Linked DNA regions of Homo sapiens. The protein of the gene in region 2 purifies or fractionates together with the protein of the main gene of each other region. This does not show direct contact. Each region holds a gene or a part of one and is shown on either strand. Other genes may lie near its edges.

What was found.
Region 1: the proteins of HFE (region 2) and PTGFRN purify together in Homo sapiens (affinity purification with mass spectrometry; one large-scale study listed by BioGRID and IntAct). This does not show direct contact.
Region 3: the proteins of HFE (region 2) and POM121 purify together in Homo sapiens (affinity purification with mass spectrometry; one large-scale study listed by BioGRID and IntAct). This does not show direct contact.
Region 4: the proteins of HFE (region 2) and GALNT2 purify together in Homo sapiens (affinity purification with mass spectrometry; one large-scale study listed by BioGRID and IntAct). This does not show direct contact.
Region 5: the proteins of HFE (region 2) and LSR purify together in Homo sapiens (co-immunoprecipitation; 2 studies listed by BioGRID and IntAct, with this or other methods). This does not show direct contact.
Region 6: the proteins of HFE (region 2) and DIPK1A purify together in Homo sapiens (affinity purification with mass spectrometry; one large-scale study listed by BioGRID and IntAct). This does not show direct contact.
Region 7: the proteins of HFE (region 2) and LRP12 purify together in Homo sapiens (affinity purification with mass spectrometry; one large-scale study listed by BioGRID and IntAct). This does not show direct contact.

Annotation. Positions count from the first base shown.
Region 1 is NC_000001.11:116,915,952-116,920,231, reverse strand, and holds part of PTGFRN (prostaglandin F2 receptor negative regulator precursor), read right to left. Parts: intron 1-4,280. UniProt on the Homo sapiens protein: Inhibits the binding of prostaglandin F2-alpha (PGF2-alpha) to its specific FP receptor, by decreasing the receptor number rather than the affinity constant. Functional coupling with the prostaglandin F2-alpha receptor seems to occur.
Region 2 is NC_000006.12:26,089,925-26,094,204, reverse strand, and holds part of HFE (hereditary hemochromatosis protein isoform 1 precursor), read right to left. Parts: intron 3,483-4,280; exon of another isoform or gene 3,365-3,482; coding exon 3,101-3,364; intron 2,892-3,100; coding exon 2,616-2,891; intron 1,597-2,615; coding exon of another isoform or gene 1,564-1,596; intron 1,521-1,563; coding exon 1,245-1,520; exon of another isoform or gene 1,179-1,244; intron 1,087-1,178; coding exon 973-1,086; intron 20-972; coding exon 1-19. UniProt on the Homo sapiens protein: Binds to transferrin receptor (TFR) and reduces its affinity for iron-loaded transferrin.
Region 3 is NC_000007.14:72,934,610-72,938,889, forward strand, and holds part of POM121 (nuclear envelope pore membrane protein POM 121), read left to right. Parts: intron 1-3,980; coding exon 3,981-4,072; intron 4,073-4,280. UniProt on the Homo sapiens protein: Essential component of the nuclear pore complex (NPC). The repeat-containing domain may be involved in anchoring components of the pore complex to the pore membrane. When overexpressed in cells induces the formation of cytoplasmic annulate lamellae (AL).
Region 4 is NC_000001.11:230,258,706-230,262,985, reverse strand, and holds part of GALNT2 (polypeptide N-acetylgalactosaminyltransferase 2 precursor), read right to left. Parts: exon of another isoform or gene 3,899-4,280; intron 3,509-3,898; exon of another isoform or gene 3,405-3,508; coding exon of another isoform or gene 3,223-3,404; intron 414-3,222; coding exon 321-413; intron 65-320; coding exon 1-64. Other genes in the region: uncharacterized protein LOC124904542, read left to right, coding at 3,223-3,404. UniProt on the Homo sapiens protein: Catalyzes the initial reaction in O-linked oligosaccharide biosynthesis, the transfer of an N-acetyl-D-galactosamine residue to a serine or threonine residue on the protein receptor.
Region 5 is NC_000019.10:35,258,444-35,262,723, forward strand, and holds part of LSR (lipolysis-stimulated lipoprotein receptor isoform 2 precursor), read left to right. Parts: intron 1-501; coding exon 502-621; intron 622-627; exon of another isoform or gene 628-1,378; intron 1,379-2,555; exon of another isoform or gene 2,556-2,959; intron 2,960-3,481; coding exon 3,482-3,538; intron 3,539-4,102; coding exon 4,103-4,249; intron 4,250-4,280. UniProt on the Homo sapiens protein: Probable role in the clearance of triglyceride-rich lipoprotein from blood. Binds chylomicrons, LDL and VLDL in presence of free fatty acids and allows their subsequent uptake in the cells.
Region 6 is NC_000001.11:92,849,645-92,853,924, forward strand, and holds part of DIPK1A (divergent protein kinase domain 1A), read right to left. Parts: intron 1,312-4,280; coding exon 1,204-1,311; intron 1-1,203.
Region 7 is NC_000008.11:104,488,736-104,492,777, forward strand, and holds the end of LRP12 (low-density lipoprotein receptor-related protein 12 isoform a precursor), read right to left. Parts: intron 2,805-4,042; coding exon 1,938-2,804; 3' UTR 501-1,937; downstream 1-500. UniProt on the Homo sapiens protein: Probable receptor, which may be involved in the internalization of lipophilic molecules and/or signal transduction. May act as a tumor suppressor.

The DNA.
Region 1 (4,280 bases), on a different chromosome or scaffold from region 2:
CACAGGGAAAGATCCTTAGTGTGCAGGAAATGGGCTGCAATCAGGCAGCAGTCGCCTACACAAGGACCGAACAATTTCCAGAGCCCTCAGAGGCACCAACCCACTGTTGTGAAGAGGCACCAGCCAGGTGAGAGACAACAGGCACAGGCTGCAGGATTATAAGGAGTGCTCAGAAGATGGGCAGGAAGCCAGGGCTGGGCCAAGAGGCCACATGGCCAACAGCAGGGGTCAGCATGAACTCAAAGAATTCTGGAGATGGAAGGGGAGACCTTTGGGATCAGCTAGCCCAACCCTTATTTTACAGGGGCTGAGAGCTGTTCAGCAACTTGTCCAAGGTCACAAAACTAGTGAGTAGAAGGACAAGGGCCAAAATCCAAGCCTCCTGTCTTGAAAGACAAGGAAACAAATGTTATCACAATTTAGCTAATTATATCAATTCCTTTCAGTGTTTTCAAAGATATATTTTGACTAACATGGAAAGACAGACTAGTGTACTGTGGTTATGAACCCACACTCTGGAGCCAGACTACCTGGGTTTGAATCCCAAGTCTGCCACTTACACTGTGACCCTGAGCAAGTGACTTCACCTCTGTGACTCAGTTTGCTCATCTATTAAACAGGGGTAACAACAGTGCCTACTCTCATGGGGCTATGAAGCCTCCTAAATAAGTTCATCTATGGAAAGTGCATTAGCTGGTTCCGGCTGCTGGGGAGGCTGAGGTGGGAGGATCACTTCAGCCAGGGAGGTTGAGGCTGCAGTGGGCTATGACTGCAACATTACACTCCAGCCTGGGTGACAGAGACCCCCTCTCTTTAAAAAAAAGAAAAGAAAAGAAAAGCGTAGTGCCTGGCACAAAATAAATGCTACAAAAAAGGTAGACAGGAATTTATTGGGAAGGAAAGAACCCTCATATTGGTTTCTCTTGCATCGCACCTGGTCCCCAACCCCCAATTCATCTTAGTCATAGGTTACTGCCTTTTCCCCACAACGCCTAGGGCTAATGCTTCTAAGTCACACCCCTCTCTCCTAATCCATTCAGGCCCAACCCAGTCAGATATTAGCTCAACCAGCCAAAATGGTGGAAGAGGCAGAAACTCTGAATAAATGCTTATGTCACTACTAGCCATCCAGCCTATCTCCCCTTAGATCTCTGCTGCCAAAACCCTGAACTCAGAAGTTACCTCTCTTGATCCTCACCTCCTACTTTCCTAGACTACCCATTCCCTTGCACCTCAGAATCTGCTTTTATGCCATCATCATGCCCTCCAGGCCCTCAAACCTTCTGCAGGTGCATCAAGCCTGGAAGCCCCACTCACCTGCCTATCCCACGTGTACTCCTTGGCTAATCTTTCCTGTGATGTTCTCATCAGTTCCCTCGGTTCCTTTATCACTCATCCTTCCACTCTCATTCCATGGAGAGACCACATGATGCTGTCCCTCCTAGGCTGCCAAACTTGGTGGGATAAAGCCACGAAACTAGGCCCACTGCCTTTACTACAGACCTATGCTATCCTCCATCCTTCACTGCTAACTGAATGACTGTCACATTCCCGTGGGGTCCAGCCCCAGCCCACTCTCCTCCAGCTCAGACTCTGACCATGGCTTTGCCTCAGTCCCACTGAGAAAGCCCAGACTACCAAGTAATTTGTATGCCAAACCTCCTCCAGACATGCTTCTTAAACTTTAGCATGCATTTGAATCCCCTGCGGATCTTGTTCAAATACAAACTTTGATTCACAAGTTTGGACCTGAGATTCCCCCAGGTGCTGCCAATGCTGGTGGTCCACAGAACACAGTTGGGGTAGCAGAGTTCTAGGAACTTACATACACTAATGTTTGCATTCTTCTAAATATATTGTTTTTAATCTTCATGGAAAAACCTCCAAGAGAGGTATTATTCCCATTTCACAGAGACAGAAAGTGAGATTCAAAGAGGTTAGAAAACCTGTCCAAGGTTCACACTGAGGGAAGACAGGATTCAAATGAAAGGCTGATTCTGAAGCCTGAATCCTATTTTTTCCTCTTTTAATTGGGAGATGAAGTAAGGCTGGAAGGGTATAAAGAACAGAAGTAGATTTTAAAAACACACATGTAATGGTTTATTTGTAATACAAACTATTAAAATCTTCTTAGCTAATGTGAATAAGAGAAAGATGGATTATAAAATGCAAGAGTCCCTGTGCTAGAGATTCTGCCTAACAGCCAAAGACCTAAAAGCTATCAGAGAGTAAGTTAATTCCACCAATCAACACAGAAGAAGACATCCAGAGGGACACAGAGGAAACTTTATATGTGTGCAGATAAAGAAAGGGAACATACAGGCCGGGCGCAGTGGCTAACGATATTTTGGGAGGCTGAGGCAGGAGGATCACTTGAGGCCAGGAGTTTGAGACCAGTCCGAGAAACATAGCAAGACCCTGCCTCTAGGAAAAAGATAAAAAATTAACCAGGCCTGGTTGTGCAGTCCTGGCTACTCAGGAGGCTGAGGTGGGAGGACTGCTTGAGCCCAGGAGTTTCATGCTGCAATGAGCCGTGATTGCACCACTGTAATCCAGCCAGGGTGATAGCGTGAGACCCTGTCCTAAAAAGAGAGAGACAGGGAACAAGGGAACATATAGAAAACCTCTAACTAGCATGTCTGGGGAAGCTTTGGGGCTACTCTTAGGGCTGAAAAGTCTGAGATCACTGCAGAGACTGCATGCCATATCAAACTGCTCTCTCCATGCTCTCCTCTCCCTCTCCCTTCCCTCCTCTCTGGCTCTTCAAGGCTAGGGCTTCTATTTGCACCCCAACCCCCCTGTGCCACCTTCTCTGGAGTCCACACCCAGTAGTCATGCCTGCTCACTGCTCTTCAGCCTGTCCTTTGCCACCAGAGTCTCCCAGCTGGCCTGTGGGCCTGCTTAGAGACGCCTGGATCCTGTTTAAGTTGATCTGGTTCTGCCGTGCCCTGAGCCACTACCCTCACAGTGGTCTTCTGCTCCACACCACTTGAAAAGGTGGGCGATCGTTTCTGACTCAGAGTTCCTTCCCCACCCCACCCACTTCTCAAGTTCTGTGATTTCCCTTCCTCCTTCACTGGGCAGACTTCACAGTGCCCATATCCAAGGGCTTCTCTGTCTTTATCCTTCCAGTTCTGTAGCAGCATGTGACCAATCCCTCTTTAACAAGTCCACTCACACCCATCTCTGCTTGGCTTCCGACAGCGTGCTCTCCCAGTACTTCTTCCGTTCCCTGACTACTCCTAGAACTCTCCCTTTCATTTCCTGTCTCCTCACTGCAGGCATTTCCAAGAACCTGCCCTTGACCCTCATCTCAATCGTCCACTTTCTGACATCTAGTGCATTTTGTCCAACTCTTTGAGGGCAGATCTGAGTCTGCTCTGCTCATACAGCAATCCTCAGAACAATGCCCGGCGTGTAATAGTAGGCGCTTGCTCAATATTTGCTGAATAAATGAGCTGCTAGCCGTGTTACTGAGCTTCTCACCTTGCATCTTCAAACAGCTCATTCCAAAGCTAGGGCTAAAGGGCTGTAGTTCACCAAGTGAAGGAGAGAACTGCCATCCTTCGTCAAATCATAGCACACACAGGAAATGACAGTATCTGTACAGCTCTCTGGGTACGCAGGCCTTTGGATTTAGAGGCAGCTCCTGCCCTGTGGGTATCAGTATCATGACAACCCACCTGAAATCCATGTGAGTCCCTTACTGAGGCCCATAAGCTGGGGAGTTCTGTCTAGTCCAGCTCTAAAGAAGAGCAAGGAAGAGCCATTATCAGAATATTCTTGGCTTGGAGTCACTTTTAAGCTCCAAGAAGTAACTCATCTGTCTGCCCACTATCTCTATTTCATTAGGATTCCAAGGTAGCACCCACTCTGAAATGTGCCCGGAACCCTTAGGCACAATTCCACTCTTCGCTATTCTAAGCCAAATTCATCCTAGACAGAGCAACAGTAGCCACGGGTTCTTCTCCACTCCTATGAAATATCCCAAGTGAGGTAAATATTTTCACATTCCAGCTGCTTGTAAAGGTGTGAAACAGGATGCAATTAAGGTCCCAGAACATTTTACTTAAACTTGAATCATGCTGCTTAGTGACACAATACAGAGTATTGTGGAGAAATCAGCCTTCAAAGAACACAAGCGAATGCACAGAGCCATGATCTCCAGCCTACTGGAAACGCATATTGCTGGGACACGACAGTGTTAACTTCTGGGTCTAATTCTGTTGCTTCCCAAAGACTACAGTTGGTGTGGGGAGAAATAGTCCAAGATCGAAAAA
Region 2 (4,280 bases):
TAGTGCCCCATGGCTCCTCCTGTGGAGACAAGAGACCCAGGAAAGAGGCATCACAAACCTAGGCACCATCTTGCCTCTTCTCTCTTCCTTATTTTCCTCATTCACCCATCTCAATTTAGACCTGGGCACTATTGGATTTCAAGAACCATTATCTCTCATCTGGAAATGCTTATTGGCTTTCTAACTGGTCTCCTCACCTCTCATCTAACTTCTTAACAACACATTCACCATATAAGGGAGATCGTGGTCCTCCTTTCTTAGGATCCTTCAATGACACCCCAGTGATCATAACCCAATATCCCAAAAGACCCTTGGACTCTGTATGAGCTGGCTTCTTTCTGATTCTCTTTTCCCTACACCACAGATGTTCAGGGGGTAGAAATGCATAATTGGTGAGTGATAGCTACGCAAACTCAGGGTTAAGGTACAGTAATTATTTCTAATCTCCCAGTATGCCTTATACTCTCCTACTTGGCATGGTTGCTCCGTCTGTGTAGACCTCCCATCATCTTCAACCTCACCTAATGGAATCCAGCTTCTCCTTCAAGATCCAGAAGGCTATCTTGATCCCCAGCTGAATGTGATCATTCTTTCCTTTGACACCCTAAGCATTTGCTTCCTGCCTGCTTTAGGACCTCATGGGGTCTTCTTTAACTACATTTACTTGCTATCAATTTCATTCCCTACCAGATTTGGGTTCTGAGAATAGCCACAGTGACTTCTCAACCTCAAAGCCCCTGTACTACCTTAAACAGCTCTTGCAAAATAGTAGGTGCTCTGAAGATGTTTGTTGAATTAGAGACTTTCATTCTGGGGAGAACCATTATTTTCTGTCTCCCAGGGAGCTGCTGGTGTCCCCAAAGAATATAAATGAGAAAAATGCTTCCCATGGATGCCAGATCCCCTCTGCCCCTCTTCCCACTGTGCCCTGGGGCAGAGGTACTAAGAGACTTCCCCCTTGTTCCTACTCACTTGAACCCTGCCTCTTCCTTAATATTATGAACAAAATTCCAATGAACAAGATGACGACAAAAACAGCAATTCCACTGATGACTCCAATGACTAGGGTGCCAGACGGTGAGGGCTCTAAAACAGAAAAAGCAAGTTAAAGCCTTTGATTGCCACCCTCAGCCCACCCCCTAACAAAGAGCAGATCCTCATCTCACTGCCATAATTACCTCCTCAGGCACTCCTCTCAACCCCCAATAGATTTTCTCAGCTCCTGGCTCTCATCAGTCACATACCCCAGATCACAATGAGGGGCTGATCCAGGCCTGGGTGCTCCACCTGGCACGTATATCTCTGCTCTTCCCCAGGGGGTACAGCCAAGGTTATCCAGCCCTGGTAGGTCCCATCCCCATTGGGCAATACGTCTTTAGGTTCGAACTCCTTGGCATCCATTGGCTGCTTATCCTTCAGCCACTTCATGGTGATGTTCTGGGGGTAGTAGTTCAAGGCCCGACACCGTAGAGTGGTCACTGAAGAGGTCACATGATGTGTCACCTTCACCAAAGGAGGCACTTGACAGGAAAGAGGAAGGATGAGGAGAGGGGATCTGTTTACCCTTGCCAGGAAGACTGGAACTTTCACTTCCTTCTATAGGTTGGAGGAAGGAAATACCCTTTTCAGAAAAAAACAAGCTACAGGAGAGACACCATTTTGTGTCCTAAGATTGGACTCTAACACAGTGTCACTTGGAGAGCAGTCAGATCAGCTTGTTCTCCTCACATGTAAATATACATATCTGTTACCCATGTTCTTTGTTCTGATAGATAAAATTGCCCTTTATGTGCATTGAAAATGATTGAATACAGATGGTCAGTTTCACCTGGGTCAACCTAGGAGGCATTGTTATAAGAAGCGGACTTGTAAGATAGGTAGCTTCAGTGATTATTGCTATGTTCTATGAAAGAAACTTTTAACCTAAAGGATTCTTCTACTCTGATAAGTGGCCTCACTTGATATTTTGTCCTGGTATTCATATGATAGCTGAGATCTCTGAATTCTCTTTTTTTTTTTTTTTTTTTTTTTAAGATGGAGTCTCACTCTGCTGCCTAGGCTGGAGTGCAGTGGCGCGATCTTGGCTCAGTGCAACTTCCGCTTCCCAGGTTCAAGCGATGCTCCTGCCTCAGCCTTCCAATTAGCTGGGACTACAGGTGCGCATGACTGTGACCAGCTAATTTTTGTATTTTTTTAGAGACGGGTTTCACCATGTTGGTCAGGCTGGTCTCAAACTCCTGACCTTGTGACCACCCGCCTCGGCCTCCCAAAGTGCTGGGATTACAGGGGTGAGCCACCGTGCCCGGCCTTGACATTTCTGAATTTTTAACAGGTATAAATATACAAAAGATTATTGGTTAAATAAAAAGCAAGGGCCATAGACACTTCCCTTTGAGCCATATGCATGGAGAAAAGAAATTAAACCCATGACTTGTGGCTGTCTCATACATCTCAATTATAAGGTAGAGACTCTAGGATTGAGAAAGTCCCTTCCCAGAATTTGGAGAGGCACACAGCCTCAGCCACCTCTGAAACTCCAACCAGGGATTCCGTGCCCTGCAACCTCCTCCACTCTGCCACTAGAGTATAGGGGCAGAAGTGTGTTTCCACCATACCTTGTTGGTCCAAAACACCTCTCCCCAGCTCCAGCAACTGCTGCAGCTGTGCAGGGCAGTCCCTCTCCAGGTAGGCCCTGTTCTGCCTGGCCCGAATCTTGTGCCTTTCCCACTCCAGCTTGGTGGGCCAGGCCCTGGGTTCTGCTGCTCTCCAATCCAGTGTGTCAGGGCAGAATTCAAGGTGGTCCTGCCCATCATACCCGTACTTCCAGTAGCCCTCGGTACTGTTGTCTTCTTGCATTTCACAGCCCAGGATGACCTGCAGGGTGTGGGACTCTGGAAAAATCCCCAGCCTTGTTAACTGCAACCAAAGGAATAGGTCCCTATTTCCACCATCCCCAAGGACCAAATGATCTCAGGAAGCAAATTCCTTCCCTCTTCCCTGCTCCCACAAGACCTCAGACTTCCAGCTGTTTCCTTCAAGATGCATGAAAAGATGAAAAGCTCTGACAACCTCAGGAAGGTGAGGCCCCCTCTCCACATACCCTTGCTGTGGTTGTGATTTTCCATAATAGTCCAGAAGTCAACAGTGAACATGTGATCCCACCCTTTCAGACTCTGACTCAGCTGCAGCCACATCTGGCTTGAAATTCTACTGGAAACCCATGGAGTTCGGGGCTCCACACGGCGACTCTCATGATCATAGAACACGAACAGCTGGTCATCCACGTAGCCCAAAGCTTCAAACAAGGAAAGACCAAGGTCCTGCTCTGAGGCACCCATGAAGAGGTAGTGCAGAGAGTGTGAACCTGGAGACAGAGCAACAGGCCTTAACCATGTGTAGTAGGAGGGGAGCAGGATGTTGAGGCTCCACACACCTGCATCAACTCATACCATCAGCTGTGTCTGGTCCTCATTTTGTGAAGGGTGAGTTGCAGTCCTGTCTTTCTTCCATATGACAGTCCTGGGTGCTCTTTCCTTGTGTGCTTTTCTCTGCCACACGTGGCTGCCACCCCCTCACTGCCCCCAGATCCTATTCCAATACTCATGATTAGACAGACTCCACTAAAGCTGGTGGATTCTAGAAAATGTTAAGGTGTGTCTAGCCATGGTAGTTGAACTCAGGAGTTGGTGCTCAGGGCAAATTAGACCCAAATCCTGAGGAATAATTCCTTCAGTTTTTTTTTTTTTTTTTTTTTTTTTTTTTGAGACAGAGTCTCACTCTATCACCCAGGCTGGAGTGCAGTGGCACAATCTCAGCTCACTGCAACCTGCACCTCCTGGGTTCAAGGGATTCTCCTACCTAAGCCTCCTGAAAACCTGGGACTATAGGCGTGCGCCACCACACCAGGCTAATTTTTGTATTTTTAGTAGACATGGGGTTTCACCATGTTGGCCAAGCTTGTCTCAAACTCCTGACCTCAAATGATCTACCTGCCTCAGCCACCAAAGTGCTGGGATTACAGAAGTGAGCCACCGTGCCCAGCCTTGGTCCTGAATTCTTACACTGAACTGCCTATGTGGCCTCACCACTTGGAAGCCTGACTGGAATCTCAAACTTAACATGTCCAAATGCAGATCCTTGATTTACCCCAAACTGCTCTTTCCTCTGCCTTCACCATCTCAGAAATGGCATTGCCAATTACCCCACTGCTCAGGCCAATAAAATTAAAATAAAGAACAAAGTCAACTTTAACTCTTCTCTTTTTCAGGGGGTCAGGGGAG
Region 3 (4,280 bases), on a different chromosome or scaffold from region 2:
ATTACTTTTATATGTAAATCCATAAACCACCTGAAATTAATTTTTGTATATGGTGTGAGGTTGGAATCAAAATTAGTTTTTTTTGTGTTTGGTGGTGTTGGTGGTTTTTGTTGTTGTTGTTGTTGTTTTTTACTGTAGAAATACCCATTTCTCTTAGCAACATTTATTGAAAGGACCATCCTTATTTCTCTGCAGCACCGTCTTTGTCTAATTTAAGTGTCTGTATATATGTGGGTCCATTTCTAGACTCTGTTTTGTTCCATTGGTCTATTTTTCTACCTACCCTTGTGCCAGTCTTTGTTTTACCCCTAGCCTTATACTTTAAGTCTTGATAGAGTCAGTCATCCCACTTTCTCATTTCTCTTCAGGACTGTCTTGTATCTTGGCCTTTTGCATTTTCATATAATTTTTAGATCAACTTGTCAATTTCCACAAAAAAAAAAAAAAGTTCTGAGATACTGATTGGGATTGCCTTTCATCTACTGATTACTTTGGATGGAATTAACATTGTTACAATATTGACCTTGTTTACTTCTAATCTATGAACATGGAATGTCGTTATTTATTTATTTAACTTTTGAGACAAGGGGTCTTGCTCTGTGGCCCAGGCTGGAGTGCAGTGACATGATCATAGCTCACTACTGCCTTGAACTCCCAGGCTCAAGCGATTCTCCTGCCTCAGCCTCTTGAGTAGCTGGGACCACAGGCATGCATCACCACACCTAGCTAATTTTTAAAAACTTATAATAGAGACACAGTCTCACTATGTTGCCTAGGCTGGTCTCAAACTCCTGAGCTCAAGCAATCTTCCCACCTTGGCCTCCCTGAGTGCTGGGATTGTAGGCGTGAGCCACCATGTCCTGCCTCCTTCATTTATTTACATCATCTCTATTTCTTCTCTGTAGAGGTTTTACTTCTTTTTTATTAGATTTACAATCTCGGCTCACTGCAGCCTCCACCTGCTGGGTTCAAGTGATTCTCCAGCCTCAGACTTCCGAGTAGCTGAGATTACAGGCACGTGCCACCACACCTGGCGAATTTTTGTAGTTTTAGTAGAGACAGGGTTTCACCTTGTTGGCCAGGCTGATCTCAAACTCCTGACCTCAGGTGATCCACCTGCCTCTGCCTCCCAAAGTGCTGAGATTACAGGCGTGAGCCACGGCGCCTGGCCCTAGGTATATGCTATTCTAAATAGTGCCTTCATATATGCTATTCTAAATAGTGCCTTCAAAATGTGATTGGCTGTGCTGGTGTGTAGAAATACAACTGATTTTGTATTCAGAAAGTTTGCTAAATCTGTATGTTCTTTAGGATTTTAGTACATACACTCAGGTCTATGATAATGAGTTTTTCCTTTCCTCTGCAATCTTATTCTGTTTATGTCTTGCTGCACTTGGCTAGGACTTTAAGTTGAATAGACATGATAATAAACATCCTTGTCTTGTTAGATCTGAAATGAGTGTGTATGTACAGTCAATGAAGTAGAGGAGTAATACTTTTTTCCCCTAATTGTTAAACCAGTTGTTCAGTTGTCTTCCAGTCCTAGCTAATCATTACAGTCTCCTTTGGCATTTCTGTTTTTTCTTTATTTTTTCTTGGTAGAGATGAGACTTCACTATGTTACCTAGGCTGGTCTCAAAACTCTTGGGCTCAAGTGATCCTCCCACCTTGGCCTCCCAAAGTGTTGGGATTACAGGCATGCACCACCACACCTGGCTAATTTTTGTATTCCTTTTTTTTTTTGAGACGGAGTCTTGCTCTGTCTCCCAGCCATTCTCCTGCCTCAGACTCCCAAGTAGCTGGGACTACAGGCACCTGCCACCACACCCGGCTAATTTTTTGTATTTTTAGTAGAGACGGGGTTTCACCATGTTAGCCAGGATGGTCTCAATCTCCTGACCTCGTGATCCGCCCACCTTGGCCTCCCAAAGTGGTGGGATTACAGGCGTCAGCCACCGTGCCCAGCTTGTTTTTGTATTTCTAGAAGAGATGAGGTTTCACCATGTTGGCCATGCTGGTCTGGAATTCCTGACCTCAGGTGATCCTCCTGCCTCAGCCTCCTGAAGTGCTAGGATTACAGGTGTGAGCCACCTCGTCTGGCCCCTTTGGCATTTCTGACCCTTGCTTGCTCAGTGATGTGTATCCCTCAGTGTCTGGAGCACATTGTGAAGAAAAATGCAAGGTTTATGGTTTTTATTGTTTTAATTTTATTACTTTAACTACAGGTAAGGTCTTGCTATGTTGCCCAGGCTGGTCCGAAACTCCTGGGCTCAAGCAGTTCTCCTGCCTCAGTTCTGAAAGTGCTAGGATTACAGGTGTGAGCCACCGCACTCGGCCATCTATGTGCTTTTAAAGTTCCACAGGTGGCTAGGTGTGGTGGCTCACGCCTGTAATCCCAGCACTTTTGGAGGCCAAGGCAGGCAGATCACGAGGTCAAGAGATCAAGACCATCCTGGCCAACATGGTGAAACCCTGTCTCTACTAAAGATACAAAAATTAGCTGGGTGTGGTGGCATGTTCCTGTAGTCCCAGCTACTCGGGAGGCTGAGGCAGGAGAATCGCTTGAACCAGGGAGGCGGAGGTTGCAGTGAGCTGAGATCGCGCCACTGCACTCCAGCCTGGTAACAGAGCAAGGCTCCGTCTCAAAAAAAAAAAAAGTTCCACAGGTGACTGAGCCGTCCTTTGAGAACCAGTGAGGTAGTGTCAGGGATCTGAAGTGATTGAAAATGCCGCTTATATATTCAATCCTTGGATCCCTTTGATGAATTTTTGTATTCTGCTCTTTTATATGCCTGTAATCCCATGTTTTTTAAACCATTGTGCTCTGGCCTTTCTTGCTGTTTGAGCGTAACTTCAACTGTTATTGCCGTGAGCAGTCTTCTCAAGCTCCTCCTGGGCCCGGCTTCCTGATGGTGGCCTCACTGAACTGTTCTGCTGCTTACCACTTGTCTGAAGCTTCCTCTTTTCCCTTTTTGAACTCTTATTAAGCATTGCTGGCTTCCTGTTTGTACTTATATGATGTAGCTGGTACTGGGTAAGAAATCACTAGCAGCTTTTCAAGTAGGAAAGACGGTCTGAGGTGACAGTTTAGTGGCTTTGTAATTAGGCTCAGCACTTACGAGACTATTTGCAGTGTCCGCTCTGTGCCATCTACTTTGCTGCTGGTCTGTGGAGGAAGCAGAGATGAAAACACCGTCTTTGCTGTCAAGAACTCACCTGGTGGAAGAGGCAGATGTATGGATAATCATCACATGATGATAAATGCCATCGTTGTTGCAAAAGTCATAAACGTTACGACAGCATATTTTTAAAATGAAGTTAGTAAATTAAAATAGAAAATTTAATAGAAGCAAGACTAAATTAGTTTACTGGGTTATCTTCTTTAATTTACTTCTATCCTCTCCGTAGACAGTCTGGCACAGGTTTGAATGTGTCCTGGCTCTTCATTACTGAGGCTAACGTTCCACCTAATATATGCAAAAGTGTGTCCATCCCTTCTACCTTTATTCGCATTCCATTACTTTTATAGACTTTTCTTCTTTTGCTTTCATAATTAATACTGGCAGTTGACTTTCTTTTCAGGGGTCTTTCTTCACAAACAAATTTTTTTCATTTTCTTTTCTTTTTTTTTTTTTGAGACAGGGTCTCACTCTGTCACCCAGGCTGGAGTGCAGTGGGGCAATCTCAGCTCACTGCAGCATCCTGAGTAGTTGGGACCACAGATGCAAACCACCACACCCAACTGATTTTTCAGTTTTTTTGTAGAGACAGGGGTCTCGCTATGTTACCCAGGCTGGGCTCAAATTCCTGGGCTCAAGCGATCCTCCCACCTTGGCCTCCCAGCATGCTGGGATTACAGGCATGACTAACCATTTAACCATAAAGAATGTTTTTTTAGTCACTTGAAAAGAGACTTTGTCGTGTTGAGGGTCAGATGCTAAGTTATCAGCAGGCTCAGTCATGTCCCTCTTGATTTTTAGCTCTGGAAGAGAAATGGCCCCAGTTCATCACCCTTCTCTAGCCCAGCCTCCTCCCGCTCCCAGACACCGGAGAGGCCAGCAAAGAAAATAAGGTACTTGGCATTCTCCTGCAGTTTTCATTTGCTGCGTGGACAGGCGGGGGTGAGGAAAGGTGGGAAACGAACCTGGCTCTTAGGCTTTGTGCTGCTGTGACTTGGAGAATCAAAGAAACTTAAGTCCCTGAGAGGTACAATGCAGTACCCACCCGAAGTGCTGTCATCCCTACAGTCTTGGATACTGACTCCAGTGGCCTCTGGCTGT
Region 4 (4,280 bases), on a different chromosome or scaffold from region 2:
TTCAAGGTACCATTTGAAAGGCTTGCAGCTGAGTTTCTTCCTAAGCTCCAATCTGCTCTGAATACTGGAGAAGAGGGAAATAAGATTCCTTTATAAATTTTAAGAATAGATGGGCTTTCTACATCAAACTTGAAAATCTGCTGAGGAGAACAGGGTTGGGGCAGGTGGTGTGGTGTGGACTGCCCATGCTCCTGTGCCCACAACCCCTTCCCGCCTTGGCACCTGGGTAGCTGAATTCAACGCTGGGGGCAGCCCCTTACCTCCCACCCCCACACCCCAAGAATCCCCAGTAATTGTGAGAAGGCAGAACTGCCACTTACTTTCCATAAGGAACGTTTCTAGCAGAAGGCACTGCTGCATAATAGAAATTTTTGTATTCATCCATCCAGACCTCTGCTGCCCGGCGGGTGTTTCTAGAAAGAAAATAAATCTTGAGGTGTGATTTCCTTTCTTTCTGTCTGCATCACTCCATTTGCACCTGTCTGCTGGCGTGTGACTGAGGCGGCTCCCTCTGGGTGTGCAGCAGCTCCAGCTGGGATCACGGCACACAGCAGAGGGTGGGCTGTCCCCACCAGCACCTCGAGCTGGACCTGTGGGGAGCCAGCCTCAGCGGGTGCTTACTGAACCATTGGAATGGCTTTCTTGTCACACAGATGGTCAAAGGGCAAAAGGCAAAGTGGAAATTACAGCACGAGCCAATATTTTAAAGGAGGGACTGGGGTCTATATCTTAAAGAAGGACAAAAGAAAGTTACTCTTTAAAAACTCTCACATTACGCGTCCACAGAGGGCCGGGGCCACAGAGCACAGCAAGGAGATTCCAGGCCCCACGGCCTTCTCCGTCACGGCTACGACACTATCAGACAGCTCTGCATTAAAGTTCAGACTACATAAGATAAGAGTTCCTGGGAAAATCACTTTCTTTTCTGCGGGGCTAAGCTGAAAGACTGCCATGTTTGCACTAGCTTTTTTTTTTTTTGATGGAGTCTCGCTCTGCTGCCAAGCTGGAGTGCAGTGGCGAGATCTCGGCTCACTGAAACCTCCGCCTCCCGGGTTCAAGCGATTCTCCTGCCTGAGCTTCCTGAGCAGCTGGGACTATAGGCATGTACCACCACACCCAGCTAAAATTTTTGTGTAATTTTAGTAGAGACGGTTTCACCACATTAGCCAGGATGGTCTCGATCTCTTGACCTTGTGATCCACTCGCCTCAGCTTCCCAAAGTGCTGGGATTACAGGCGTGAGCCACCGCGCCCAGCCGGCTTTTCTAGAAGGAAAGAAAACCATGTACTTAAATCTCATAGAGAGAACCATGATTTGCCATAAATAAAGCCCCTGGGACAAGCTACTCTTGAATGTCTGACATGCATTAAAAGCTATCATCTGCATAGGTATCAGCAGTGTATTCTGCCAAGAATTATCTTAAAGCATCCATGAAGTAGCAAGCACACAGCTAACCTCTTTGCTCCCATATTCTGGTCTCGGCTATAAGGTGGACTCCCACTTCAGGCTATAGCTAGCCCTCCTTAAGAACCCCATAGGAAGGCACTGTGTTCTTCCAAAATAAATACAGTAAGGAGGTAATGCTCGCCTTTTAAAATAATTCCTTAAAATGGCGAAACTTTCAACTGATCTGAGATACCATTATTAAAATAATTTCTGTATGGGGCCTATATCTTTCATATAAGGTGATATATATACTTTTTCATTTTAGTAAGTAGAATATGGACTATTATCCATAATGCCATTCAACACAGATAAGAACATATGAATGCACCTATTCTCTGACCCAGCAGCTCTACTTCTAGAAATTTATCTCAAGGCAGCAATCAATTAGGAATGAAATATACATGTGAAAATATGCTCACTTCTGCTTTGTTTATAATAGCAAAAAAAAAAAAAAAAAAGAGAAACTTTATGACTAAATATGAGGAAGGAATCAAATGAAATATTCTGTGACCACTAAAAACATGAGTGTGCATCTTACATGTTGACAGAAATGATGTCCTGGACTTGTGGGAAAATAAAATAGTTTGCAGAATTGCATATAGTGGATATGTGTGTAGAGGCAGAAGGAGAGCCAGTGAGCAAACAAGAGAGAGAGACAGAAATAGATACTGACAGACGAATTCATCAAATTATGAGAGTGTTATGGCACAACTGGTTTGGTGATGAGACTGATGAATTTTTACTTTCTCTCTATTAAAAAATATACAGATACAACAATGAGTACTTAAAGTGCTGGGGGATACTGGATCATACATATCATTTCTCAGAAGAGCCACTAAACATTGTTAGTGGGGTTTTGCTAAGTGACCTATGCCTTAACCTATGCCTAGTCAGTTTTTAACCAGTTATTAACTTAAATACTTGTAACATCTGGCACCTGGATTTCCCCAACAGGGACATGAAAGGATTTGATTCCAGAATGTCCTAGGTTCCTTTCAGCCTTAATGATTTAAAGGTTTTATCAACTCCAGTCATACTGTTTTCAAATCACTCAAGTTTTTAAGTGACTAAATCACTTAAAAATTCCTAAACGCAAAGCAACTCTTTTCTGTCTTTGTAATAGAAAAGGATAACTAGGCAGCCCCAAGGAATGATCTCCATGTGCTACTCAGTGCTAGCTCCTTTTATTCATTTATTTATTGGTTCACTCAGGTATTTATTTGGTATCTACACCAAACAGTCTCAGTGCTGCAGATACAGTGGCACCGAGGGAGACTCACTTTTGTCCAGGCCCTCCTTGTTTTTGCAGGTATTTGCAAGTATTTAGGTAGTATTAAATAAGTATTAAATAAATATTAAATGTCATCTATTACAAGTTGGGCATCCCTAATCCAAAATGTCCTAACATCCAAAACTTTTTGAGCACCAACATGAGATAGTGACGAAACTGCCTTTGCAAAAAATTTAACAATGACAAAATTGACAGTTTAAGGCATCTGACCTGACTGACTCCATCTAACTTCTAACGTCTAAACTGCCCTTGTTCACTCCTGGGCATAGGCAGAACTAACTTTGGGAGAAACTTAGTTTATAGTTTAACTTTAAAACAAAGATGGTAACAGCCCTTTCCCCAAACAAACCCTCTTTTTGTCTGGGTACCAGACTGCCTTTGTTGGACTAACAAATCAGCCACAGATTTGCAACTTCCCCAATTACTCCTGCAGATAACATCACCATTGCAGAACGTAAGATTGGCCTTTTGTAATGTCTTTTCAGGCTTCTGCACTTCTGATGACTCCATCCAGATCTCCAGCTTGTCCTGTGGACCCATCCATGCAGAAGCAGACTCGGCAGGCACAAGGACCATTTTCCACACCCCTATGATTGCACCTCATCCAATCAGCAGCACCCACTCCCTAGTCCCCAGCTCCCTCCAGATTATCCTTGAAAAACCCTAGCCTCTGAATTTTGGGGGAGATTGACTTAAGTAATAAAATTCCAGTCTCCCACTTAGCCAGCTCTGTGTGAACTAAACTCTTTCTCTATTGCAATTCCCATCTTGGTAAGTCAGCTCCATCTGGGCAGCGGGCAAGGTGAATCCAGTGGGCGGTCACAGTGACGCCTTTGCTTTCTGATGGTTTAATGTACACAAACTTTGTTTCATGCAGAAAATTATGAAAAGTATTGTATTAAATTAACTTCAGGCTATGTGTATAAGGTCTATATAAAACAAACAAATTTTGTACTTTGACTTAGGTCCCAGCCCCAAGATATCTCATTAGGTAGTACATATAAATATTCCATATCCTGAAAAAGTCAAAAATCCAAAATATTTCTTGTCTCAAGCATTTTGGATAAAAGATATTCAACCTGTATAGGAGATTAAGAGAAACTGCAGCTGGAAAGAGACCTCAGAAATACAGTGATATAATTCCACTTCTTTATCTTTCAGATGAGTCAACTGAGGTAAAGAGCAACCTGGCTGAAGGTCAACAGCAGGGCTTTTTAATCAGATCCATGCTGCCCCAAAATAATGAAACCCTGGATCAGCTTCTTTTCCAAATCTTGAGAATACAGGCTCCTGGGCTGTGAAATACAATTTGAAAATGTTTCTCTTCTAACAAAGAGTGCAATGTCTTGAGTACTTTAACATACTGTTTTCTGAAATCTCACTGTTTGCTGGTAGGTATCAATGGCTTTGGTGTGGGGCGTCTGATATGTCTATATAAAGAATCTCATGCTGCCCCAGGAAAAAGCACATATATCCATATTTTTGTTTGATTTTGTAAAGCTTATTGTACAAGATCACATTTTTGTTTTAATAAAGAACAAAA
Region 5 (4,280 bases), on a different chromosome or scaffold from region 2:
TCCGATTCAAACAAAAAAAAAAAAAAGCTGGGCATGGTGGAGTGCCTGTAGTCCTAACTACTCAGGTGGGAGGATTGCTTGAGTCCAGGAGGTTGAAGTTGCAGTGGGCTATAATTACACCACTGCACTCCAGCCAGGGCCACAGAGTGAGACCCTGTCTCTAAAGAAAGAAAAAAAAAAACAACCTCAGGCTCCGAGGGCACCATTACTGCTCTATACTGAAGAGCTGTGCAGCTTTTCCAGACCCGAAATGTCATCCACAAAACAGAAGTGATAATGGTCCTGCCTCACAGACTTCTTGCAGTAGTCCAGGTGTTTAGAACGGGGTGTAAAAGGCCGTGTGCCCTTGGTAGGAATCTTTGCATATGCATTTGATCATCTGCAGCCTGCCCAGCCCACTGCTTGCCCCCTCCTGGGTGTGCTGGGAAGGGGTCTTTGGCCCTCCAGGGGTTAGGTGCCCCAGCCTCCAAGGTGCCCTCACGCCTTTTCATCCCGACTCAGATGCTGACCTGACCTTTGACCAGACGGCGTGGGGGGACAGTGGTGTGTATTACTGCTCCGTGGTCTCAGCCCAGGACCTCCAGGGGAACAATGAGGCCTACGCAGAGCTCATCGTCCTTGGTGAGTGGGCCTGGGAAGGGGGAGGCATGGCCCTTCCTTTTGTCCGCTTCTGTTCTGTCTGCCCTCCCCTGTGTCCGCCCTCTGCCCTCCAGCTTACCCTCTGGGCTCTGTCGCCTGCTCTGCTCTCCCCCAGGCTCTGCCAGTCACTTAGGCTCCCCTGTGCCCTGCACCCCAGGCAGGGACCACTGGCCCACAGTGCCTCCAATCACCCAAGCCAAACTAAGAGAAGAGTGGAGACAATTGGAGACTCTGCCTTTTCAAAGTCTCATTTTTAAAAAAAATCCAGACTTGGGGTCCGGGTGCGGTAGTTCATGCCTGTAATCCCAGCACTTTGGGAGGCCGAGGCGGGTGGATCACTTGAGGCCAGGAGTTCGAGACTAGCCTGGCCAACGTGGCAAAATCCCGTCTCTATAAAAAATATAAAAGCCAGGCGTGGTGGTGCACATGCCTGTAATCCCAGTTACTCAGAAGGCTGAGGCATGAGGATTGCTTGAACCTGGGAGGCAGAGGATGCAGTAAGCCAAGATCAAGCCACTGCACTCCAGCCTGGGCGACAGAGTGAGACTCTGTCCAAAAAAAAAAAAAATCCAGACGTGGTCAGAGTCCATGGGCAGTGAATGAGGACAGTTGATGGTGTGCAAAATCGACCCACCTCTTGCTACATCCCCAAGGCCTCATCTCACCCGAGTCCCTCGCCAAAGCACAGCGGTTTTGCCGTGTGCCCTGCTGGGATGGCGCTGCATGGCACACACACTGTGTAAGTTTGAGTGCAGCTGAAACGAAGCCGATTCCAGACACCCAGGGGCAGGGCGGGGTGTCCGTGTGGCTGGGAGGCCTCCTTGTGTTAGGGGGATGTTGCCATCGGCCAGGTGCCCTGCTGTAAGCCAACACATGGAGTCTTGTATGACATGTGCTCTGCATGAGTGATGCCGCTGGGCTGTACACTGCCATCTTCACATGTGTGAATGAGCACGTGACTGGGGGGTACTTGGGCTGCAAGACAGAGTTCATGTGTGGGGGATGGAACACGTGCACCAGTGACCCAGGAACCTCTGCCTGTTCTTCGGTAAAATGCACCATTTGCATCAGCAGTTCCCAAAATTAGTCTCCAGGTCTATTTACACTCTAAAACATTATCGAGGGTCTCCAAGAGCTTTTGTTTGTTTCTGTGGGTTTTATGTCTATCTGTTGCTTAACATATTAGGAATTAAAATGGGGAGATTTTCCTTTTTTTTTTTTTTTTTTGAGATGGAGTCTCGTTCTGTCGCCCAGGCTGGAGTGCAGTGGCTCGATCTCGGCTCACTGCAAGCTTCACCTCCTGGGTTCACGCCATTCTCCTGCCTCAGCCTCCCAGGTAGCTGGGACTACAGGCACCCGCCACCACACCCGGCTAATTTTTTTTGTATTTTTAGTAGAGACTGGGTTTCACCATGTTAGCCAGGATGGTCTCGATCTCCTGACCTCGTGATCCACCCACCTGGGCCTCCCAAAGTGCTGGGATTACAGGCATGAGCCACTGCCCGGCCTTAAAATGGGGAGATTTTTCAAGCCCAAGATACACAAGGAAGACTGGGCAACATGGCAAGACCCTGACTCTACAAAAAATTTTAAAATTAACCAGGCATGGTGGCATGCACCTGTGAGCCCAGCTTCTTGGGAGGCTGAGGCAGGAGTATCGCTTGCACCCAGGAGGTCAAGGCTGCAGTGAGCCGTGACTATGCTACTGCACTCTAGCATGAGTGACAGAGACCCTGGCTCAAGAAACACAAACACACACACACACACACACACGCATATAGTCCATTAGGCATCAGGGCGATGATGGCATCAGGGAGCCTGGGAAACTCTACTGGACATTCATGGGAGAACAAGTGAAAAAGGCAAATAACATCTTAGTGTTATTCTAAAATTTCTTCTTTTGGCCTTGTGGACAGGACCACGCTTTGAGAGCTGTGACTGACATGCCTCTGTCCTGTTGCGAGGGCCTATAGTGCCAAGTGCATGAGCTCTGGGGAGGGCTTCGTGGGTGCAGAGCTGGGCCTGTGGAGGCCCCTCAGACACAACACTGGTGGGGCTCAGAGCTCCAGGGGCACTCGAGGGAAGACAAGAACCGGCTCTGAGATGCGTGAATGTGACAGTGCATGAGTAGAGATGGAGACCTTGTGGGTCCCAGAACCAGGACTGCATATGACTTTCATATGTGGGTATTTTTGCCTTCATGGGTCCCTTCCTGTTTTAAAAAAAATGTGTGATTATGTTGTCACAAAGAGTTTATTCCTGTATATTGTGTTAATTTGTGTTCAGATTTGTAAAGTAAAATTAAACCATTTCAGCCAGGTGTGGTGACACATGCCTGTAGCCCTAGCTACTTACCCCAGAGGCTGAGGTGGGAGGATCGCCTGAGCCCACGAGGTTGAAGCTGCAGTGAGCCATGATCACACCCCTGCACTCCAGACTGGGCGACAGAGCTGAGATCCTATTTCGTGGGCCCTAGGTCCCTGTGCCTGCTGGAACAGGACATCCCTATCACCGTGGTTGGAGCCCTTTGGGGTGCTAAGACCTATGAATGAGGGAAACTTAGGGTGCCCAAGCTGAGGTAGAGCCCTCAGAACCCCCTGGGATTTGTATTGGAGCCCTCGTGGCATAACACAGGTGGATTATGCAATGGGAGTTTCTTACCTATAAGCACCCACATGTGGGCGGGTGGAGGGTAGGAGCCATGCACTAGGGCTTCAGCCCCCAGCCCCTTCCCGCTTCAGGGCACACCTTGCACTTGGCCAGCCTGGAGCTGGGCTTTCGGGGGTGGCACAGCCTGGGCTGGCTCTGGCCAGCATAATCTGTTTCTCTTTTGTCCCTCCAGGGAGGACCTCAGGGGTGGCTGAGCTCTTACCTGGTTTTCAGGCGGGGCCCATAGAAGGTACGGGGGGTGGATCCTGAGTTGGGCTTCTCGGGAGCTCCCATACATCACCTACTGCTTCTGACTCTAGTTAGTATCCCCTTCCCCACTAAACCCTGCTCACTGTGGACCCCTCACTAACCTGGCCTGACTGTGGCTCTGAGGCATCTAGTGGTCTGGCGCTGGGCCTAGGCTAGGCTGGGCTGAGGAGAGCCTGGGGTGCAGGCCAGGGCTCTGTGACTGGCACCTGCGGTGCTCTTGAGGGTGTGGCGTCTGGGCAGCTGGCTCTCTCTTTGGTCTGGGGGCTGCAGTCTGTCTCCCTCTGTGCAGGCTGCCTCGTTTTCTGCCTTGTGTTTTTTGCACCTGGGGGAGGGCCGTAACTGGGGAATGGCCGGGATGGTAGAATGGGGAGTGTGCTGTGCCCAGCCTCTGGCACAAAAAATCCAGCCAGGGCTGCAGGTTCCTTGGTGAGCTTTGCAAATCGTCCCCGACCTCAGTGCTGGCTCCGCACCATGTACCCCTGCTGTGCCGTTAGCCCTGTTCCCTCCCAGGCCTCCGGGCTCAGGGCCTGTTGTCTTTCTGCAGACTGGCTCTTCGTGGTTGTGGTATGCCTGGCTGCCTTCCTCATCTTCCTCCTCCTGGGCATCTGCTGGTGCCAGTGCTGCCCGCACACTTGCTGCTGCTACGTCAGGTGCCCCTGCTGCCCAGACAAGTGCTGCTGCCCCGAGGCCCGTAAGTGTCCCGCTCATGGCCACCCTGGTTT
Region 6 (4,280 bases), on a different chromosome or scaffold from region 2:
TGGGATTACAGGCATGTGCCACCACACCCGGCTAATTTTTTGTGTTTTTAGTAGAGAGGGGGTATCGCAATGTTGCTCAGGTTGGTCTTGAATGCCTGGCCTCAAGTGACCTACCGCCTCAGCCTCCCAAAGTGCTGGGATTACAGGTGTATGCCACTGTGCCTGGCCACCCAGCTAATTTTTGTATTTTTTGTAGAGACAGGGTTTTGCTATGTTGCTCAGGTAGGCCTCAAACTCCTGGACTAAAGCAATCCACCCACCTTGGCCTCCTGAAGTGCTGGGATTACAGGCCCGTGCCACGGGCCCGGCTGTTTGTATTTTTTTATTTTTATTTTTTATTTTTTGAGACACTCACTCACTCTGTCACCCAGGCTGGAGTGCAGTGGTGGGACCATAGCTCACTGCAGCCTCAACCTCCTGGGCTCAAGCAATCTTCCCACTTCAGCCTCCTGAGTAGCTAGAACCACAGGTGTGTGCCACCACACCTGGCATTTTTTTTAAATTTTGGAGAGACAGGGTCTCACTACATTGCCCAGGCTGGTCTCAGACTCCTGGGCGCAAGTGGTCCTCCCATCTCAGCCTCCCAAAGTGTTGGGATTACATGCGTGAGCCACCGCACCAGGTTGCCTTAATCACCATTGTATTCCTGGTAACTGAAACAGCATCTAACATCAAAGTGCTGACAGAAAAAAAAAAACAAAACAAAACAGTGTCTGGAATATACTGGGGATAGATTAATAAATATCTTTTGACTGGCCAGGTGTGGTGGCTGACATCTATAATCCCAGCACTTTGGAAGGCCAAGGCGGGTGGATTGCTTGAGCTCAGGAGTTCGAGACCAGCCTGGGCAACATGGCGGGACTCTGTTTCTACAAAAATACAAAAAATTAGCCAAGTGTGGTTGTGTGAGCCTGTAGTCCCAGCTACATGGGAGGCTGAGGTGGGAGGCTCACTTGAGCCTGGGAAGTGGAGGTTGCAGTGAGCAGAGATCTCACCACTGTACTCCAGCCTGGACAACAGATCCTGTCTCAAAAAATTAAAATAAAATAAATGTCTGTTTAATGAATGAATCAAAGCATACAAAATTGAAATACATATAATGTCTCAAAGCTTTGGTTCAAGAATTCTTTTAATAATGCCTTTAATTTCTGGTAAAATTAGAGTACACTATAATTCTGGAATGTTTATTCATAATGGCCATACCTGATTGTTGGGCTTGGTGGATAAACATTTTCCAAAGTAAAGAGTTTCTGTAACACAAAGGCTGTTACATGCAGGCCCATCAATAACTCCAGTCTTGTACTTGTCACACTAAAAACCAGGAAATAAAAAAGTAGTTAATAGAAAAATATTCACAAGAAGAAGCATAAAGAGATATCTATATCCTTTATGAGTAAGTTCTATGACAAAAAGAACTGAGGCTTTGGACTTAGACAGACCTGGATTTGATCTAAGCTCTGTTACTTATACCTATATGATTATGAGAAAGCTTGTTGCTGCTGGGGTGTGCGTAGAATTTTGAAACTATTTTTCCCACATGACATGGTCTAAGGTGGTATGTTACCTACTCCTTCCAAGAATAGAGGCACTCTATCTTTAAAAATGGTTCCGGTTTTAGGCCAGGCACCGTGGCTCACGCTTGTAATCCCAGCACTTTGGGAGGCCGAGGCTGGTGGATCATTTGAGGTCAGGAGTTCGAGACCAGCCTGGCTAACATGGTGAAACCCCATCTCTACTAAAATAAAAAAATGAGCCAGGCGTGGTGGCGGGCGCCTGTAATGCCAGCTACTCGGGAGGCTGAGGCAGAAGAATCACTTGAGCCTGGGAGGCAGAGGTTGTGGTGAGCCGAGATCATGCCACTGCACTCCAGCCTGGGTGAGAGAGTGAGACCCTATCTCAAAAAAAAAAAAAAAAAAAACTTCTGGTTTTAAAATAAATAAAGTTTAGAATAACAAAATAAAGTTACCTCTGTCACATTGTCATCCTTGAGATCACCCAAAAACAAGAAAGGGAAAAAAACCCATCCACTCTCTGAAAAAATATGGTACCAATGAAACCCTAGGCACAATAAATGAGGATGACCTGCCAAATTCAGTGAAGATTACACCAGAGCCTACAAGTATGCTGAGATTAAACACCTGCTGTGGTCCCCACTCTCAGACAAAGTTGGCAGAGCACCAAGTAGGTGGTACATCTGCAGAGCACAACCATTATCCTGGTTGCAACAAAGATTTAAGGGGCACAAGCTGTGGGAACTTCCCAGAACTCTATTTGGCACCATGAAATAGTAAGATAAGACAGGCCTGAATGATAAAATGCTCAGAAATGTTCTCTTTGCTGGAGGCAGTCTGTTGATGAACTACGGTTGGGAGAGAGGGCCAGAAGCAGCTTCACTACCAGCTCAGTTCACTGCCCAGTTGCTTCCCGCACATGGCTGGCTGAAGGAGACCTCATTTCACTCAGTAATGAGTAATAATCAAAACCAAACAAGCAAAAGATCTATACAGCAAATCTACAAGAATTAGGAAGAATGGAATAGGAAAAGCAAATGTCAGATAAAAAAAATTTTCTAGGCAGGGTGCAGTGGCTCACGCCTATAATCCCAGCACTTTGGGGGGCCGAGGCAGGTGGATCACCTGAGGTCAGGAGTTCGAGACGAGCCTGACAAACATGGAGAAACCCCGCCTCTACTAAAAATACAAAATTAGCTGGGCGTGGTGGCGCATGCCTGTAATCTCAAGTATTCAGGAGGCTGCGGTGGAAGAGTCGCTTGAACCCTGCGGGGGCGGAGGTTGCAGTGAGCCGAGATCACACCATTGCACTCCAGCCTGGGCAAGAAGAGCGAATCTCCGTCTCAAAAAAAAAGAAAAAAATTTCTAGAAGAATGTTGCTATGAAACAGACCAAACATATTGTTATGAATTTAAAGGACTTACTGAACCAGTTTAAAATAAGACTTCAAAGCAGAAGAAATGATGAGGCAATAGAAGGAAGTTTAAAATAAGCTAACAGAACTCAGACAGGAAGGAAAATAAAACATCTAGAAATAAAAGCCACATTATAAATGAGGGGAAAGACAGACAGGGATAAAACACAGTAAGATTTAGGAGGACTAGGCCAGGCGTGGTGGCTCATCCCTGTAATAACAGCACTTTGGGAGGCTGGGCAGGCAGATCGCTTGAGCTCAGGAGTTCAAGAGCAGCCTGGGCAATACAGCAAGACCCCATCTCTACAAATAATACAAAAGAATTAGCTGGGTTTGGGGGCACATATATGTAGTACTAGCTACTTGGGAGGCTGAGGTAGGAGGATCGCTTTAGCCTGGGAGGCAGAGGTTGCAGTGAGCCAAGATCACACGACTGTACTCCAGCCTGGGTGACAGAGTGAGACCCTGTCTTAAACAAACAAAAACAATAACAACAACAAAAAACTTTGGAGGACAAGGTTGAGAAATGCAAGCAAAATGAAATGGAAATTTAAAAATAATAAAATGAATTTAAGATAAATGTATAGATAAAAAAGACAAAGTATATCCACCATGTCCATATGAAGGAGAATGGGAACTGAAGGAGAATGGGAACAAGTGGAAAAGAAAAAATATTCAAAGTAGAATTCAAGGGAAACTTCACATAAATTAAAACACTTTAATCTATAGATTGAAAGGACATACAATGAATGTCCCAAGAAAAACTGACAAGAATGACCCCTGTGACATATCCCACTGAGGTTCACTGGACTTCAAAAATAAGTTATCCTTTGAGCATCCAGGCAAAAAGATCAAGGCACCTTTAAGGGGAAACCAATCAGATTGGCCCCAGATTTCTCCATAGCCACATTCAATAGTAGACAACAGTGGTGCAATGCCAGCGGAGGCTTTGGGGAAGGAAGTGAGACTCGCCTGTGTCCTAATAGTCTCATCTGTGAAGGGGATGTTAATAGGTCTTAATTTACAGCATCCTTATGAGGATTAAATAGTGTAAGTATAGACCACCTGTGACTTTAAAAAGTGCTCAGTCATAGCTATTATTATTTTACATAGCTGAACTTTCTTTCAGTAGGCACCAAATGTTTTTGAACACATAAGGTTCAGAAAATATAATTTCCATGAGCATCTCTTGAAGAAATGATTAGAGAAGGAATTTCAGCCAACAAAGAGATGAATGGAGAAATGGAACATGAAAGCCAGTTGAAATGGACTGGAATAAAAACAGCTCAGGTAACTGAATTAATAAAAACTGATTTTTTTTTGTTTTGTTTTTTTGAGACAGAGTCTCACTCTGT
Region 7 (4,042 bases), on a different chromosome or scaffold from region 2:
TGGGATAGAAGAGGAATTTACATTTTACTGTTTGAACCAGGATGATGTATTAGTTAATTAAAATAATAAATTAAAACATATGCTAGAAAACCAAAACCCTTGTACTTGATAATATATTAGTACTAGGGCATAAAAGATTATTTGGTAACCCAAATTCTGCCAGTAGAATATATTATAGGGGTCTAAAATGTATGTGAAAACAATTTAAAAAGAGAACTGATTGTGTTACTGCATCTTGTGAGATACGTCAATTAAAAGGCAGTTTAATCAATTAAACTCTCTCATCTTGTGAGATACATCAATTGAAGGGCAATCTCAAGCAAAATAATATTCAAGTCCTTAGAAAATTTTACCCTCGAGTACTGGTAAAAGCTACTACTTTACTATAAAGTAGTTAAGGAATGATCTCCTTCTAATCATTTTTATTCTAGATATATTGCATATTTTATGGCCTGAATTTGTATATGCACCAAAATTCAACAAATAAAGAACAGCTTTGATTTAAAAAGTACCTCAAGGCAATAAAAAAAATCATTTTAATTTTTGATACATATTAAAACATCTTAGTCAGTTCCTCCTGACAGCATTAACACAGACAAATACACAAGACTTCAAACATGCTTTAAAATGACATTCAGCAAAGTACTTAAAATTTAATAAATAGCAAATCACACACAGATACATTTTTCATAATCATTAAACTACTAAAACAGACAGTTAAAGAATAAATAAACCGCAACTGACAGTAAAAAAAATATGTTGGGTTTTGCAATTCACACTACTTAAAAAGGGGGGATGATCTGAATGATTTCTTAATTTTCTTTTGAGAGTGTAGCATGATCCCCCCCAGGAATAAAATATATTGAAAAAATCACTCTTACAACAATGTATTTTTTAAATACAACAAATAAATATGAAACCAGCAAAGCAATTTCAAGTTGTAATAAAAATGTCCCCCGCCCCCAGCCAAAAGCTATGGAAATATATAGTTGCTGTGGTAGCAAATAATAGTATTTAAAGTGATAGTGCTTGTGCACTAAGCTCATCTGAGACCTTGATATAATTTTAGTGCAAATCCCTAGGGTCCAATGCAAGCGCAACCCTGTATTAGGGAAAGACATTACCAGGTGGAACTTATCTTGTACAATTTTTGTACATGTTTTATAAAGTTCAAGATTTAATGCATAGTAGAATATCTTCATCCACTTAATTCTGTTGCTAAATAGAGATGAAAAAAGAAATGACTTGGGATTTTACCATTTGGTTTGTACCATGTTAGAGTATTAAAGTCAACATTAGAAAATCTTTATAAAAGAGTTTTGTTTTTGCCAGTAATTTATCGAACTCTGCCTAAATTTCACATGATTGTATGTTAAACGTAAGAGAAAAATTTTTAGACAGTTTGTTTCCCACTGACAAGTTCATATGATAATGAAATCCAATAATAGACAAATGTCAAACAAATGAAAACGCAGGTGAGTATAAGGGTTTTTTTTTTGTACATTAACAACCTTAACATCTAGTATATTAAGTTACAAGATGTGTTGGCAAAAGCATAAACGTTTCAATTAAAATAAGGTATTATTTTGTAAAAACAAACCATTTAACATAGGATAGATAAAAATGACAATCAAATGAGTTTCAGCAGCCACATTTCTACAGTGAACTACAGTATCAGGATGAAAACAATCAGAAACAAATGAAAGGACATTATTGAACAATATGAATATGTGATGCATTTTTAGCTGCTAAAATAGTAAACTCTAAGTTCATAGAGTTACAAGTTGTCGAATTTAACCATGCAGGCTAACATATAATAATAAGAAATCACCCTGCATTTTTTCTTTTTAAACTAAAACTAGTTTAACTGTAAAGTTACAAAATAATAAATGGATATTGCTCCAACTTGTATACAATCTCCCTTATGTGATTCGTACCTAACAAAGTAACAAAGCCTCATCATCACTCGTTTCGTTTTTCAGTGTTACTTCTAAGCAAGTGTCTGGTATCTGGGCAGTGTGGACAATACCACAGCGCTCACAGGGGCCATCTCGATTACTTGGCCTTACTCCAGGATTTGTTGCATTATATGGTTGTCTAAGCCCTTGTCCTTGATCTGAGGCAAGATCAAGAAGAGGTCTGGAGCAGTCATTCACATCAAAGTCTGAAGATCCATCAGAAATTGGAATTAGCATTTCAACATCATCATCATCTTCTCTTCCACTTACCCCATTATCAAGTTGTCTCAAAGGACTCTGGTTCTGACTTAGGGAACTTGATCGTCCTAATGTAAAACGTACCCAGCGTAGCCCCTGAGTCATACGACTGAGTGCACTTGTAAGCTGGTGACGTGCTGGACTCACACTTGGGGGTTCCACACTTGTCACATCCCTTCCATTATCTGCATGACCACCTCGGGTACTCTGAGTTGAGGAACTTGCACATGCTCCTACTGTCGCTTCTACTGCCGTTGTGGGAGGGACTTTTTGAGGCAAAGGAGCTGCAACCCCACCAGATGCTCCTGCCATATCTCTTCTCTCATTTTCTGTGTCTGTATCATCAGACTCCACGGAAAACAAACTTCTGTGAGTATGATTTCTCTCAGGTTCTCTACTGGTACTCTGACTAGGGACAACCTCATCTCCATCTGCTGAGACCAAAGCCAATGACCCAGAATGACGTGATCTTGCAAAATTAAAAATACGGTTCCAAATGTTGCTTGATCTGCCTGCCATAGGAAGCCTGACTGAAGTAAATCCAAGCTGAGATCGTACCGCTAGCCTCAGATTTTCCAAAACAGAAGCCTACAAAAATAAGAAAAGATCTTAAGATAGTTAACAACAAGGTACTAAGATAAAAAAAAAAAAAAACACCCTTCTATTAAGAATGTGTTGTGGTTAAAAATTCTGTTACTCATTGTTGCTTTTGGGTCTAAGAAGGAAAAATTAAATTCTCTTACCTATGTGGGTTCATCCTACTACAGAATCTAATCTACTAATCTAACTTGAATCATTGTTTGTTTAAACTTTTCTTGATATTCCATTTTATATATGCAACTTAAAAATGATATTTAATGTAAATTATAACAGTTGTTTCAAAATCTCACATCGTAATCCAACATGAAAAGTGTACCAAAGCTAGAAAATAAAATTGATACTTCTGTAACTAGGAACATAGGAGAATCTCTACATAATTGACGAAGTGACCAAAATGAGTTTGTGAAAACGAGGACTTTTATCTTTTTTTTTTTTAAAGAACAAATTAGATTTAATTTACAAGGCTTAACTTTTCCAAAACATGTGAAAATTGTATTTCACAGAGTTGGTTCTCAAGCATTTGCTGAATGGATACTGAGGATTTAATTATATTGTCACAAATAAAGGAATTATATTTGTAATACAGCACCGAAGACAACAAGAAACAACAAAAGAACCTGTTTATATCATTACTCAATGGTATCGACATTTAGATTCCTTCTTAATCTTTAAAGTTTTATTTTCTATAGTTTAGTATTAAGTATAAATATATCATTCTTTGAAAACTAGTTAGCTGTAATTAGTGTACATGAAAGGTTGTCCAACTGAATAAAAAATCTATTCTTTTTTCTAGATGAACGAGTTTAGAGTTTGTTTTTAAAAGCATATAGCATTATATAAGATAGTCTTTAAGCTCCATCTAGTGGTTATAAAAAGAAGTATTCAAACTTGAAACAGCTTTCACCAACCTGGCATTTAGTATTTAAAAATTGTATTTCCAGGAAACAATCTTAAGTTGATATACTCTCCTTCAGTTGATGATACCATCTCCTGCCAAAACTCACACCTCTTCCCTTTCCCCTCACAGAAGAAAGAAGGTAGAAAATAAGGAAGATGTCCTCTTATGTTCTGTATCTCTTTGTGACTGGTATTGCATTTATTTATGCTTTCCATATAGGCCCTTCCATAGTGCCATGAACATAATTTATGATAAGAAGCTACTATCATAGGAACATTTCATAGTCTAACATTAGTAAGGCACAGATTGTCAATAAGAAATTTGGATA